Linked DNA regions of Homo sapiens. The protein of the gene in region 1 interacts with the protein of each later gene in a pairwise test. Each region holds a gene or a part of one and is shown on either strand. Other genes may lie near its edges.

Region 1 (7,210 bases):
CTTAGAAAACTAGAAGATCTGGCTAGTTTTCTCAGGCCCATATTTCCCTGTGGCAACAATGGGCTGGAGGCTGAGGAAAGGATGCCTCTACTCTATTTAGAGGAGGCATGTGAACTCTAGTTCATCATATTCCCCACAACTCATATAGTCACATGCATAGCCTACTTCATGGCAGACCTTATCTGCCTGGCCCCAGAAGGCATTAGAGTTTGCAATTAATAGTCTACTAACTAGAAAGAGGAGGAAAGAAAATAAAAGGCAGTCAGACCAAAGAGAGATGGCAATCTGAATGAGATAAATCCAAGAAAAAGAACCTCTGTAAGTCTTCAGAGGCTTCTGGCCTGGTGCTTACCTGCTGGAGGCTGTTGCTCTCCTGACTGTGCCTGAGTAGACTCAGCAGCAGCCCAGGAAGCCCTGCCTCCCGGCAGAAGGAATACAAGGCAACAGAATCACTGCAGCTGGAGAGAAGACTGCTCAGGACCCGGAATGCAGGCAGGATGTGGGAAGCACCCTCCAAGATGCCTTTCAGGATCTGGGTGACATGAGGGAAAGAGGCAACGATTGATATTTTCAGAGGTAAAAGAAGGAGAACTACACATACCAAGCATCCCCAAGGAGCTGGGAAAGCAGACCACATGCTTGCATTCCTTTCTTTGCAAGTCTAAAACACAGAGAAGGAAAGCAGGGAAATAGGGGAACTGTACCAGGGAAGAAGACAATAGATGGTCAGGTTACCTAACACAGAACACCAGTGACCAACGGATAGGGGCCTCTCCTCAGGATCTCTGTCAGACTAAGTGCCATTCCCATCTGCTCCCTCCCTTCTCCAGCCCTTCACCTTAAAAACAAAAAACACGTGCACCGCACATGCTTCTGAAAATTCAAAACAATGCATATAAAACAATATTATTTAACCACAGAAAGACAAAACAACATTATTCAACTCTAGATCAGGGTTGACAAACTATGGCTCACAGGTCAAATCCAGCCTAACATTTATTTGTATACAGCCTGCATGCTAAGGATAGTATTATATTTTTATTTATTTTTGCCCTTTATTTATTTTTCGAGACAGAGTTTCACTCTTGTCCTCCAGGCTGGAGTGTAATGGTGCAATCTTGGCTCACTGCAACCTCTCTGCCTCCTGGGTTCAAGTGATTCTCCTGCCTCAGCCTCCCAAGTAGCTGGGATTACAGGTGCCCACCACCACACCTAGCTAATTTTTGTATTTTTAGTAGAGATGGGATTTCACCATGTTGGCCAGGCTGGCCTCAAACTCCTGACCTCAAGTGATCCTCCCACCTCAGCCTCCCAAAGTGCTAGGATTACAGGCGTGAGCCACCATGCCTGGCCAGTATTGTATTTTTAAATGGTTATTCTTCAAAAGAAGAACATTTACACCAAGTATTTTATAATATTCCATTAGCTGTTCTAAATGTTGGCATCTGCTCATTTAATATTTACAATAACCCTGTGAAATAAATAGAATTAGCCATTTTATAGATGAAGAAACTGAAGCTTCTGCATAAGTCAAGTAAGTAGTCCAAGATCACGCAGCTAATGAGTAGTGCAGCTGGAATTCCACCAGAGGGAGTCTTATCCCTAAAGGCAGAGCTTTCAGTCTGCCTCCCCACACTGCAAGTTATCCAACACTAGGAGGAAAACGTGTTAGCGCCAAAAGACAAGTGCAAAGTGCCAAGCCAATTCAATGAGGAAAGGAGAGTTCTTTTCCACAAATGGTGCCAGGACAATTATATATCCACATGCAAAAACGATCAACTTAGATCCTTTCCTCACATTATATACAAAAATTAGCTCAAGATGGATCAGAAACCTACATGTAAGAGCTAAAACTATAAAACTTAGGAAAAGAGAAAATCTTTAAGACCTTGCATTTGGAAAAGATTTCTTATACACAACATCAAAAGTATGAACCACAAAGGGAAAAAACAGTAACTGAACTTAAATCAAAATTCAACATTTTTTGCTTCAAAAGACACTCTTATGAGAAAGAATGAAAAGACAAACCACAGACTGGGAGAAAATATTTGCAAATCACCCATCTGATAAAGGTCTTATGTTGACAATATACAAAGAAGTCTTACAACTCAATAACGCAAACAACCAAATTAAAAACTGAGCAGAAGATTTGAGATATTTCACCAAAGAAGATATACAAATGGTGAATAAGCCATGAAAAGATGTTCAACATTCATCATTAGTGGAATGTAAATTAAAATAACAATGAGATACTATCTCACACTTACTAGAATGGCTATAGTAAAAAAGTTAGACAATAACAAGTGTTGACAAGGATGTGAAGAAACAAGGACCCTCATATAATACTGGTGGGAATGTAAAATGGTACAGCCACTTTGGAAAATAGTTCAGCAGTTTCTTAAAATGTTAAATATAAATTTACCATATGACCAGCAATTCTACTCCTACGTAGTTACCCAAGGGAAATAAAAACATTTATCCATACATAGACTTGCTTGTGAATGTTCATAGCAGCATTATTCATAAAAGCTAAAAAGTGGAAACAACCCAATACATCAATATCTAATCAACTAGTGAGTGGATAAACAAAATGTGATATATCCATATAACGGAATACTAACCAGCTATAAAAAGGGGAATAATGATTAACTGTAAATGGGGGCTGGGGGCAGTAGCTCATACCTATAATCCTAGCACTTTGGGAGGCCAAGGTGGGAGGATTACTTGAGCCCACTTGAGCCCAGGAGTTCCAGACCAGCCTGGGCAACATGGTAAAACCCTATCTCTACAAAAAATACAAAAAATTAGCTAAGCATGGTGGTGCACGCCTGTAATCCAAGCTACTTGAGATGCTGAGACATGAGAATCCCTTGAACCAGGGAGGCAGAGGCTGCAGTGACCCAAGATTGTGCTACAACACTCCAGCCTAGATGACAGAGTGAGACCCCATCTCAAAAATTAAAAATAAATAAATAAATAAATTTTAAAAAGGCTGGGCACGGTGGTTCACGCCTGTAATCCCAGCACTTTGGGAGGCTGAGGCGGGCGGATCACAAGGTCAGGAGTTCAAGACCAGCCTGGCTAAGATGGTGAAACACCATCTCTACTAAAAATACAAAAAAATTAACCGGGCGTGGTGGCACGAGCCTGTAATCCCAGTCACTCCAGAGGCTGAGGCAGAGAATTGCTTAAACCTGCGCGGGGCAGAGGTTGCAGTGAGCCGAGATCACACCACTACACTCCAGCCTGGGTGACAGAGTGAGATTCCGTCTCAAAAAAAAAACCGTAAATGGGTATGAGGGATTTTACTGGGGTGATGAAAATGTTCTAAAACTGAACTATGGTTAACAGTTTTTAAATTAGCAAATTTACTAAAAATCATTTATCATTCATCAAAAAAGTGTAAATCTTATACATAAATTATACCTGAATAAAGTGATATAAGCAACACAGTTTGGCGAGTACCCAGGAAGGAAAAGCACTGTGTTTCAGAGGAGCAAAGTAAGGTTTTGTAGGAGGGAACACTAACTTTACACTAACTTTGAATGCTAATTAAGCAAAATGTCATTCCTCTCCCCCGCAAAATAACCTCATTCTTCTCACTAGTGTACCTGTAGTACAAAATATTGTATATTTAATTGTTACATTTATATTTTTAATTTCATCAATAAAAAATTAGTGAAAATGTGTTTTCCCTCATTATGTAAGTACTTAACATAATATCCTCCATTTTTGCCTGGTGGCTCACAATGCCTAAAATATTTATCATCAAAAAAGTTTGATCCCTATTCTAGTAGGCATTTTTCCCTTCAGAAAAAGAAACCTGAGGGCTGCTCTTTCTGTGTTACTAAAGGAGGTTGGTAAACCTCCTCAAACTAAGCAGATAGACTGAAGAACTGGAAAAGGACAAACTTTCTCTTTCTCCTGAAGTCAGTGTATTTCAATGCTCCATCTGTGAAAACAGTCTTGATCCCATCCACAGTGTCTTTCTCCCCATTACCTGCCCTCCAGCTTCATGCAGCTGACTCTGGATGCGCTGGCAGAAGTCAGGATTACACAGCAAGGTGAGAGGAGCCTTCAGTTGAATAGGCACAGGCTCAGTGGTCTCTAGCAGGTGCTGCCACTCATTGTCACTGTCTGGCTCCTGAGGCAGAGGGGAGTGAAAGGGGTCAGGAGTAGTGTGTAAGTCTAAGGTAGTAGATCCCAACCAGTAGAAACCATGGGGAATCATGAAGTAACTGCAAGGAGCCAGTGACCCCTTTAGCACAGATGTATATCTTCAGTCACCTGCTAAAAAAGGTACAGCTGGCAGTCTGTGAGGGGTCTGGAAGAGTCTCTTGGAGAACACCGGCATGTGTGCATAAAGAGATACCTAGAAAGACGTCCGCTGCAGCATGGTTTGTAATAATTTTAAAAAGGAAAAGATCATAAAGTCAGTCACTAAGGGAATAATAAACCAGGGTCCATCCATATTAGAAAATACGATGAGGTTATTAAAAAGATTGTGAATGCCGGGTGCGTGGCTCACACCTGTAATCCCACCACTTTGGGAGGCCGAGGCTGGCAGATCACCTGAGCTCAGGAGTTCAAGACCAGCCTGGCCAATGTGGTGAAACCCCCCTCTCTATGAAAATACAAAAATTAGCTGGGTGTGGTGGCACATGCCTGTAATCCCAGCTACTCAGGAGGCTGACACAGGAGAATTGTTTGAACCCGGGAGACAGAGTTTGCAGTGAGCCGAGATGTCACCACTGCACTCCAGCCTGGGTGACAGAGTGAGACTCTGTCTCAAAAAAAAAAAAAAAAAAAAAAAAGGCCAGGCGCAGTAGCTCACGCCTATAATCCCAGCACTTTGGGAGGCTGAGGCAGGCAGATCACCTGAGGTCGGGAGTTCAAGACCAGCCTGACCAACATGGAGAAACCCCACCCATCTCTACTAAAAATACAAAATTAGCCGGGTGTGGTGGCAGATGCCTGTAATCCCAGCTACTCGGGAGGCAGAGGCAGGATAATCGCTTGAATCCAGGAGGTGGAGGTGGCGGTGAGCTGAGATCGTGCCATTGCACTCCAGCCTGGGCAACAAGAGTGAAACTCTGTCTCAAAAAAAAAAAAAAAAAAAAAAGATCGTGAGGCTGGGCACATTAGCTCATACCTGTAATCCCAGCATTTTGGGAGGTCGAGGTAGGAGGACTGCTTGAGGCCAGGAGCTCAAGACCAGCCTGGGCAATATAGTAAGGCTCTGTCTCTTTAAAAAAAAAAAAAAAAAAGTGGCACATATACACCATGGAATACTATGCAGCCATAAAAAATGATGAGTTCATGTCCTTTGTAGGGACGTGGATGAAATTGGAAATCATCATTCTCAGTAAACTATCACAAGAACAAAAAACCAAACACCACATATTCTCACTCATAGGTGGGAATTGAACAATGAGAACACATGGACACAGGAAGGGGAACATCACACTCTGGGGACTGTTGTGGGGTGGGGGAAGGGGGAGGGATAGCACTGGGAGATATACCTAATGCTAGATGACGAGTTAGTGGGTGCTGCGCACCAGCATGGCACATGTATACATATGTAACTAACCTGCACATTGTGCACATGTACCCTAAAACTTAAAGTATAATAATAATAAATAAATAAATAAAAATAGGCCTGGTGCAGTGGCTCATGCCTGTAATCCCAGCACTTCAAGAGGCCGAGGCGGGCAGATCACAAGGTCAGGAGTTCGAGACCAGCCTGAACAACATGGTGAAACCCTGTCTCTACTAAAAATACAAAAATTAGCTGGGCATGGTGACAGGCACCTGTAACCCCAGCTACTCAGAAGGCTGAGGCAGGATAATCGCTTGAACCTGGGAGGCGGCGGTTGCAGTGAGCCAAGATCGTGCCACTGCACTCCAGCCCAGGCAACAGAGCAAGACTCCATCTTAAAAAAAAAAAAAAAAAATAGCTGGGCATGGTGCCATACACCTGTAGTCTCAGCTACTCAGGAGGCTGAGATGAAAGAATTGCTTACCCCATGAGTTCAAGGCTGCAGTGAGCCATGATTGCACCACTATAGTCCACCCTGTTGTCCAGGTGATAGAATAAGACACTGTCTCAAATAAATAAATAAAAAGATTAAGGTACTGAGGATGTATCACTTATGTAGTATTCCTACCAAAAATATATACAACCTGAATCTATTCATTAGGAAATAATCAATTTGAGGAACATTCTACAAAATAACTGACGTGTACCTCAAAACTATCAGTCATAAAATACAAAGAAAGACAAGAACTGTTCCAGATTAAAGGAGACTAAGGAGGCATAACAACTAAATGCAATGTGTGGGCTGGGCACAGTGGCTCACTGTAATCCCAGCACTTTGTGAGGCTGACGCGGGCAGACCACTTGAGTCCAGGAGTTCAAGACCAACCTGGACAAGATGGCGAAACCTTCTCTCTAAAAAAACACAAAAATTAGCCAGGCATGGTGGCAGGTGCCTGTAGTCCCAGCTACTCAGAAGGCTGAGGCAGGAGGATTGCTTGAGCTCAGGAGTCGGAGGTTACAGTGAGCCGAGATCACATCATTGCACTCCACCCTGGCAACAGAGTAAGACCCTGCTCAATAAATAAATAAATAAATAAATAAAGCAAGGTGTGATACTGGATTGGATCATGGAGCAGAAAAAAAATTTTCATAACGCACATTACTGAAGCAATTAGCAAAATTTGAATAAGGATTACAGATTAGTTTAATTAATCTATTATAACAGTATTATATCAATGTTAAATTTCTGACTTTCATAATTGTACTGTGTTAGTGTAAGTGAAGGATCTTGTTTTAGGAAATATGCGCTAAAGTATTTAGGGGTAAAGGGGCATGTGTACAACTTACCCTAAAATGATTCAGAAAGATGCTATGTCCATAGGGGGAGAGAGAGAGAGAGGATGGTAAAGCAAATGAGACAAAAGTTTTACAACTGATGAATTTGGGGTAAAAGTGTTGTTATAGGCTGGGTGTGGTGGCTCCAGCTTGTAATCCCAGCACTTTGGGAGGCCGAGGCAGGCAGATCACCTAAGGTCAGGAGTTTGAGACCAGCCTAGCCAACATGGTGAAACCCCATCTCTACTCAAAATACAAAATTAGCTGGGCATGATGGCACATGCCTGTAATTCCAGCTACTTGGGAGGCTGAGGCAGGAGAATCGCTTGAACCCAG
Region 2 (7,025 bases), on another chromosome or scaffold:
CAATGACTCACGTCTATAATCCCAGCAATTTGGGAGGCCAAGGCAGGTAGGTCACCTGAAGTCAGGAGTTCAAGACCAGCCTGGCCAACATGGCGAAACCCCATCTCTACTAAAAATACAAAAATTAGGCCAGGTGCAGTGGCTTACGCCTGTAATCCCAGCACTTTGGGGGGCCGAGGAGGGTGGATCACCTGAGGTCAGGAGATCAAGACCATCCTGGCTAACACAGTGAAACCCCATCTCTACTAAAAATACAAAAAATTAGCCAGGCATGGTGGCACGCGCCTGTAGTCCCACCTACTCGGGAGGCTGAGGCAGAGAATTGCTTGGACCCGGGAGGCGGAGGCTGCAGTGAGCCAAGATCGCGCCACTGCACTCCAGCCTGAGGAACAGAACAAGATTCCATCTCAAAAAAAAAAAAAATTAGCCAGGCATGGTGGCGGGCGCCTGTAATCCCAGCTATTCCGGAGGCTGAAGCAAGAGAATGGCTTGAACCCAGGAGGCACAGGTTGCAGTGAGCCGATTGCGCCACTGCACTCCAGCCTGGGTGACAAGAGACTCCATATCAAAAAAAATAATAATAATTAATTAATTAAAAACAAAAAGGCACTGGTTAGTATCTTTCTTTTAATGACGGTTTCCCTAAGTCCTTTTTACATCCCTCTTCGTTCTAAAACCCATTCATTAAAAAGAACCAATCCTGGCCTAGCACAGTGCCTCATGTCTGTAATCCCAACGCTTTCGGAGGTGGAGGCAGGATTGTCTGAAGCCAAGAGTTCAAGACCAGCCTGGGCAACATGGTGAGATCCCGACTCTACACAAATAAAATAGCCTGGCATGGTGGTGCATGCCTGTAGTCCCAGCTATATGGTATGTATTATAACCAAAATAAGATTAAACTGACAGTATGTTAAGATGGGAAGTTACTAAGCCAGAAAAAATATAATCAGAAACCTTAAGTGTTCACAAATTGTCTACATTAGGATATCTCAGGATAAGATGATAAAATAAGTTTTCATACAGTATGTATAACTGATTTCTTGAAAATAAGGTTTTAGGCTACAAGGGAAAAAATTAAGTAAAATCTTGATTTTTTTTTTTTTTAAAGGAGGCTAGGTCTTGAACCCCTGGGCTCAAGCAATCCTCCTGCCTCAGCCTCCCAAAATTCTGGAATTACAGGTGCAAGCCACCATCCAGCCCATCTTGAAATTTTGAATTTGATTTAGGCCAAATTCATTTCCTTAATCTTTAGTCACATCTGACCATCAAGTCACATGTGGACAATTTCAGTCTGAAATTAACAAAACACATTAGTTATAAATCTGCTTAGATAGGGTGGTTTGTTACTTTCAAGCATTTCTCCTCTCTAAGGCTGTTTCCTTAGAGTAAAATAAGAATTGGATCAAATGATTTTCTTTTTTTTTTTTGGACAGGGTCTCACTCAGTGGCCCAGGCTGGTGTGCAGGGGCAAGATCTAGGCTCACTGCAACCTCCACCTCCAGGGTTCAAACGATTCTCGTGCCTCAGCCTCCAGAGTAGCCACCTCAGCCTCTGGCACACCACCACACCCAGTTAATTTTTTGTGTTTTTGGTAGATATGGAGTTTCACTATGTTGCCCAGGCTGGTCTAGAACTCCTGGCCTCAAGTGATCCGCCTGCCTCGGCCTTCCAAAGTGCTAGGATTACAGGTGTGAGCCACCGCGCCTGGCACTAAGTTATCTTTCAATAACTTATTAATAGTTGAAATTCCATGACTTTAAGATTCTTTGACTCAGTCCAAACACGTTCCCCATTACAGACTTCCTAATATTCATTTTTAAAGCTGTAACCTCTTAATTATAAAATAAAACACAAGTACAGAAAACTCCACAGAATACATAGTTTAATGAATTACTAAAGAGGGACACCCTTCTAATCACCACCCAAAGTCAGGAAATAGGACTTTGCCAGCCACACAAGCAGCCCCTCTGTGAGCCTGTCTCAATCACCACCCCTCCTGATCCCCAAAAGTTAACCACCCCCTGACTTTCGTAGTCATCACTTCCTTAGGTTTCTTCATGGTTTTCTCACTCGAGTGTGCTTTCCCAGAAACCACAGTTTAGTCTCTTAACCTATAGTGCTCCTAAGGAAGTCTCTCTTAATTCACAAGTTCACCTAAGAAGCATCTAAGAAGCCAGAAGGCAGAGCAAATCACATACAGGTGCAAATGAGGCATTTAAGAGTCGGGGGCAGGTCCTACATTCAAGGAACGCTGAGAGCGAACAGGTGATAAGAGCGCACAGGTGCCCACTTTCAGCACAATCATGACTCCCGCACCAGAAGCATGAGCATCACCTGGGACTTAATACAAAAGAAAAAGTTATCGGCCCTGCCCCAAATTTACGGAATCATACACTACGGCGGTAGGGCCTGGCCTTCTGTGTTACTACACGCCCTGGGGTGACTGGGATGCGCTCAAGTCTGCGAAATGCCAGCCAAATCAACCCCGAGATGTAACCGATGGCGCGCGCCACACTAAGCACTCCATAGGTGCTCCTCCTCGCCGCACTTCACAGACTCAATTATCACAGACTCAGGGGCGCTACGTAGTCACTCACCCCCCCCCCCCCCCCCCCCGCTCCCCAGGCAACTCGCGGCGGGCGAATCGGCGGCTTTCGCGGCCTCGCTACGTCCGTAGGCATCAGTCCGCGAGACCGGCTGGGAGCCTAGGAAGCGCTGCAGGGCGGTGAAGACGCGGTCCGCTCTGGGAAGTTAAGAGATGGCGTCCATAAAGCACATCTCCCAAGCCGAAACACACAAGCACTCTCTCTCCCCGCTGCACCCAGGTCCTAGAAGAGGCGTCCCGTGTGCCCTTAACTAACGCCCGGATAAAAACGGGCGGCTTTTTTAACACGAGCGCAAAGCAGGGGAGCGCAGGGGGTACGGGGTCCACTGGCAGAAGGAGAGAGGGCGGCCAGGCGCCACCACCCACCCGCCCCGGCAGGCCTGCGCGCTCTTCCGCGACCGCTTAGGCAGACACGAACTCAGACTCGTAGCTACTAAAACCGCCACTGCCACGCACCTGGTAGCTAAGTCAAGAAAAGAGTCCAGTCCACTTGGCTGCTCCCGCGGTTGCGCGCATCTCGGCCTCTGCCTCAGGACAGGTCCACAGGCCCAAGAATGGGGGAGAAAGCAGTGAAGCAAAGCGGAACGCGCGGAAGAAGCCGACCAGCCTTACGGAGGCGACGCCCCTCCAGGTTTGGATTCGTCCATACGGTTTCCACGGCAGCACACAGAACGCCGGAAGAAGCTCAGGAAGCCGACTGGCTGTGCAGTTTCCGTTCCTGTTGGCTGGGGCCCGGAAGTGAGAGACCACGAGGGCCCCTCCCTCCACCCAAAGGGCATCACGCCCTGCCTTTGGACGAGCCCACAGGCCAGAGACTGGGGCGGGAAGTGCTGGAGTAACAGTCATAGTGGTCGGCCCACCATCCCTCTATGTTTGGATTTGCTCATTCCATCTCCATGGCAGCACGCAGAACGCTGGAAAAACGCAAAGCGCTGATTGGTTAAGAGTCTCAGTTCCTATTGGCCAGAGTCCGAAGTGGGAGCCCGTGAGGGACTACTCTTCAATCTTAAGTGGGTGCTGAGGCTAGAGTGTGGAGAACTGAGACCTCGTCATTTCTTCTCTTCCCGTTCCCACTGTCCTTCTGTTTCCTTCCATTCTTTTCTTTCTGGCTTCTTCTGGGAGCTCAGGTAGACATGGTGGCATAGTCTGGATAACCAACGCCTCAGAAGCAGGGGCCCCGGGGTCCTCACCATTTAGAAAAGAGAAGGCTGTGAATTACCTTCCTTTTTGGAGATGGAGGAAACAGATGAGACACTCTGATCTCAAGTTGATTGTGTAAACTAAAAATAAAAGTTCCAAGCCCCCCTACCAACTGAGTGGATCCCTCCTCTGGGCCAAAGGCACGCCAAAGTTAACCTGAAGAACTAGCTCAGGCAATGATGGGAAGATGGGGTGGGACAGGCCTCATTATACCCTCCTCCCGTTGGAATACAGGCACAGCTGACCAGCGTTAACATTAAACAGAGACCTTAAGACTGACAAAACAGACTTTTTTGCAGCAATAAGATACCAACATGGCAGCAGGCCCCAAAAGACATTGAAGTATTTTATCCTGATATATATATACACACACATAGACAAACACACACACACATATACTCTTATGTATACATATATACTCATATACGTATATATATATATATTTTTTTTGAGACAGTCTCGCTGCATCACACAGACTAGAGGGCAGTGGCGCAATCTCGGCTCACTGCAACCTCCACCTCCTGGGTTCAAGTGATTCTCCTGCCTCAGCCTCCCAAGTAGCTGGGATTACAGGCGTGTGCCACCACACCAGCTAATTTTTGTATTTTTAGTAGAGACAGGGTTTCACTGTGTTGGCCAAGCTCATCTTGAACTCCTGACCTCAGGTGATCCACCCGCCTTGGCCTCCCAAAGTGCTGGGATTACAGGTGTGAGCCACCGTGCCTGGCCAAATATATTTATTTGACATATTTTGAAATGGCCTTGCAGAGCTATCTCTTCTGGGGGGAATCTACATTCTGTAAAGAATCCCCTTGTCTTTCCAGGTCTTTTCCCTGATGCTGGAGAGAATTAACTGAGAACCTGACACCTGTTTTAAGTCTGATAAGAAACATTTACAATCTATTCTCTCTGAAACCTGCTACATAGAGGCTTCATCTGCAGAACAAGAACCCTGGTCTCTGCAACCTCTTATCTCAACCCAGACACTGCCTTCTATTGGCTCCAGGTCTTTATATAATAACTCTTTTAACCAATTGCCAATTGTAGGGTATATGGATGTGCTTTGGTCAAGGAATAGGCCAAGGTGGACATCCGGGCCAGAGTGGCTCAGCGAGTTTAGGACACAGGCGCATATTCCACTTGTTATGTAACCCGTTTATGTAAGTTCATACTTGGATCTGAGCCACTATTGTCTGTAGAAGGTATAACTGCCCTGCTGACACTGTGCCCAGGTCTGAGTTCAGCACGACACGACCCGGTTCGTGCACTGGTGCCCAGAGTAATGCTACTAACCCCTCTAAGGGAGAGCGGTTGCCCTTAAGGTGGGCAGAGGGGAGCCGAGCCAGGAACCAGCTTGTGCCCAGAGGGAGAGTTAAGCTGCTGACCCTGACAGAGCTGGCTTTGCAGGCCAGGGTGTGCAGCTGCAGGCATGGGGGCAACAGGAGCCACAGAGCCAGAACAGACAGCCGAGATAAAGGTGGACAGTGTGAGAGAGCTAGTGTGATTAAGCTGCTGATGACACAGCCGCTGAATAAAACTACATTTCACTTGCCTACACGCCCCCAACCCTCCTTGTGTTCTTTCAGTTATTCGCCCATCCACCCACTCCCCTTGGACCTCAGCTGGGGGCTGGAACCTGACAATTGGCGTAGTCGTGGCATAACACCAATCACCTATTAAATCCACCCTATGATGTAGAAGCTCTTTCCAGCTTCGAGTTGTCCCACCTTTCCTGACCCAACCAATACCTTATGTCATGTATTGATTGATGTCTTATTTCTCCGTAAAACATGTAAAACCGAGCTGCAGCTCAGTCACCTTAGCTGTCAGGCCTCTGAGCCTAAGCTAAGCCATCATATCCCCTGTGACCTGCACGTATACATCCAGATGGCATGAAGCAACTGAAGATCCACAAAAGATGTGAAAATAGCCTTAACTGATGACATTCCACCATTGTGATTTGTTTCTGCCCCACCCTACCTGATCAATTTACTTTGTAATCTCCCCCACCCTTAAGAAGGTTCTTTGTAATTCTCCCCACCCTTGAAAATGTACTTTGTGAGATCCATCCTCTGCCCGCAAAACATTGTTCCTGACTCCACCGCCTATCCCAAAACCTATAAGAACTGACGATAATCCCACCACCCGCTGCTGACTCTCTTTTCAAACTCAGCCCACCTGCACCCAGGTGAAATAAACAGCCTTGTTGCTCACACGAAGCCTGTTTGGTGGTCTCTTCACACGGACACGTGAGACATTAGCCATATGTTCCTAGGGCCTCTTGAGACTGTGCCTCGAGCCATGGTCACTCAGATTTGGCTCAGAATAAATCTCTTTAAATATTTTACAGAGTTTAACTCTTTTTGTCAACCATCACTTACGGCTTTCAAAGCTCCACACTTGCAAGTTTCAACCACCAGATACACTGGAGCCTGTACTCCAGCCCGAGCAACAGCGCAAAATCCTGTCTGTAAAAAGGAAATTTAAAAAGAAATTTTATTTTTTGCTAACTTTACATGCATTGTTATTATTTAATGCCTCTTTGTATGAAGTAAAAAATAAATTTCTTTTCTGCAGCATTTAATGCAATGCTTTGCCTAAAGAAGGAAGTTTCTATGTGCTTGAATGAGAGATTCTTTTTTTTTGGAGACAGAGTTTAGCTCTTGTTGCGCAGGCTAGAGTGCTAACCTAGCTACACTCTAGAGACAGGGGTTTCTCCATGTTAGTCAGGCTGGTCTTGAACTCCCGACCTCAGGTGATCTGCCCGCCTCGGCCTCCCAAAGTGCTGAGATTACAGGTGTGAGCCACCGCGCCCGGCTGACAGATTCTTTATGATCATCCAGAGGTGAGAAAATGAACCAGCTCCCCTCTTCAGCATCCTTCAATGCAAAAGTGGTTTGCAAACTTTACCATCAGAATCACCTGGAGCTCTTGTTAAAACATAGATTTCTGGCTCCACCTACAAAACTTCTGATTCTGTATCTCAATGGGGCCTAAAATTTTGCATTTCTATCAACTTACCAGGTGATGTCAATGTTGCAAGTTGAGCACCACACTTTTCAAACAACCATCTAGAAAAACTGTTCTGATCTCAGGTAAATCACATCTCCTTTTACTTCTGACCCTTCCTGCCTTCTCAAGAGTCTCAGCATCCATTATTGTCAGTTCTGTGTATTTAACAGGTTTGGTAGGGAAAACGTCTCCTCCTGGACTACTGTCA

What was found. The genes of interacting proteins can lie anywhere in the genome.
Region 2: the proteins of STK36 (region 1) and ULK4 interact in a two-hybrid assay, tested with the Homo sapiens proteins (one study listed by IntAct).

The regions. Positions count from the first base shown.
Region 1 is NC_000002.12:218,682,019-218,689,228, reverse strand, and holds part of STK36 (serine/threonine-protein kinase 36), read right to left. Parts: intron 4,145-7,210; coding exon 4,001-4,144; intron 533-4,000; coding exon 353-532; intron 1-352.
Region 2 is NC_000003.12:41,958,955-41,965,979, forward strand, and holds the start of ULK4 (serine/threonine-protein kinase ULK4), read right to left. Parts: upstream 3,150-7,025; 5' UTR 3,062-3,149; intron 1-3,061. UniProt on the Homo sapiens protein: May be involved in the remodeling of cytoskeletal components, such as alpha-tubulin, and in this way regulates neurite branching and elongation, as well as cell motility.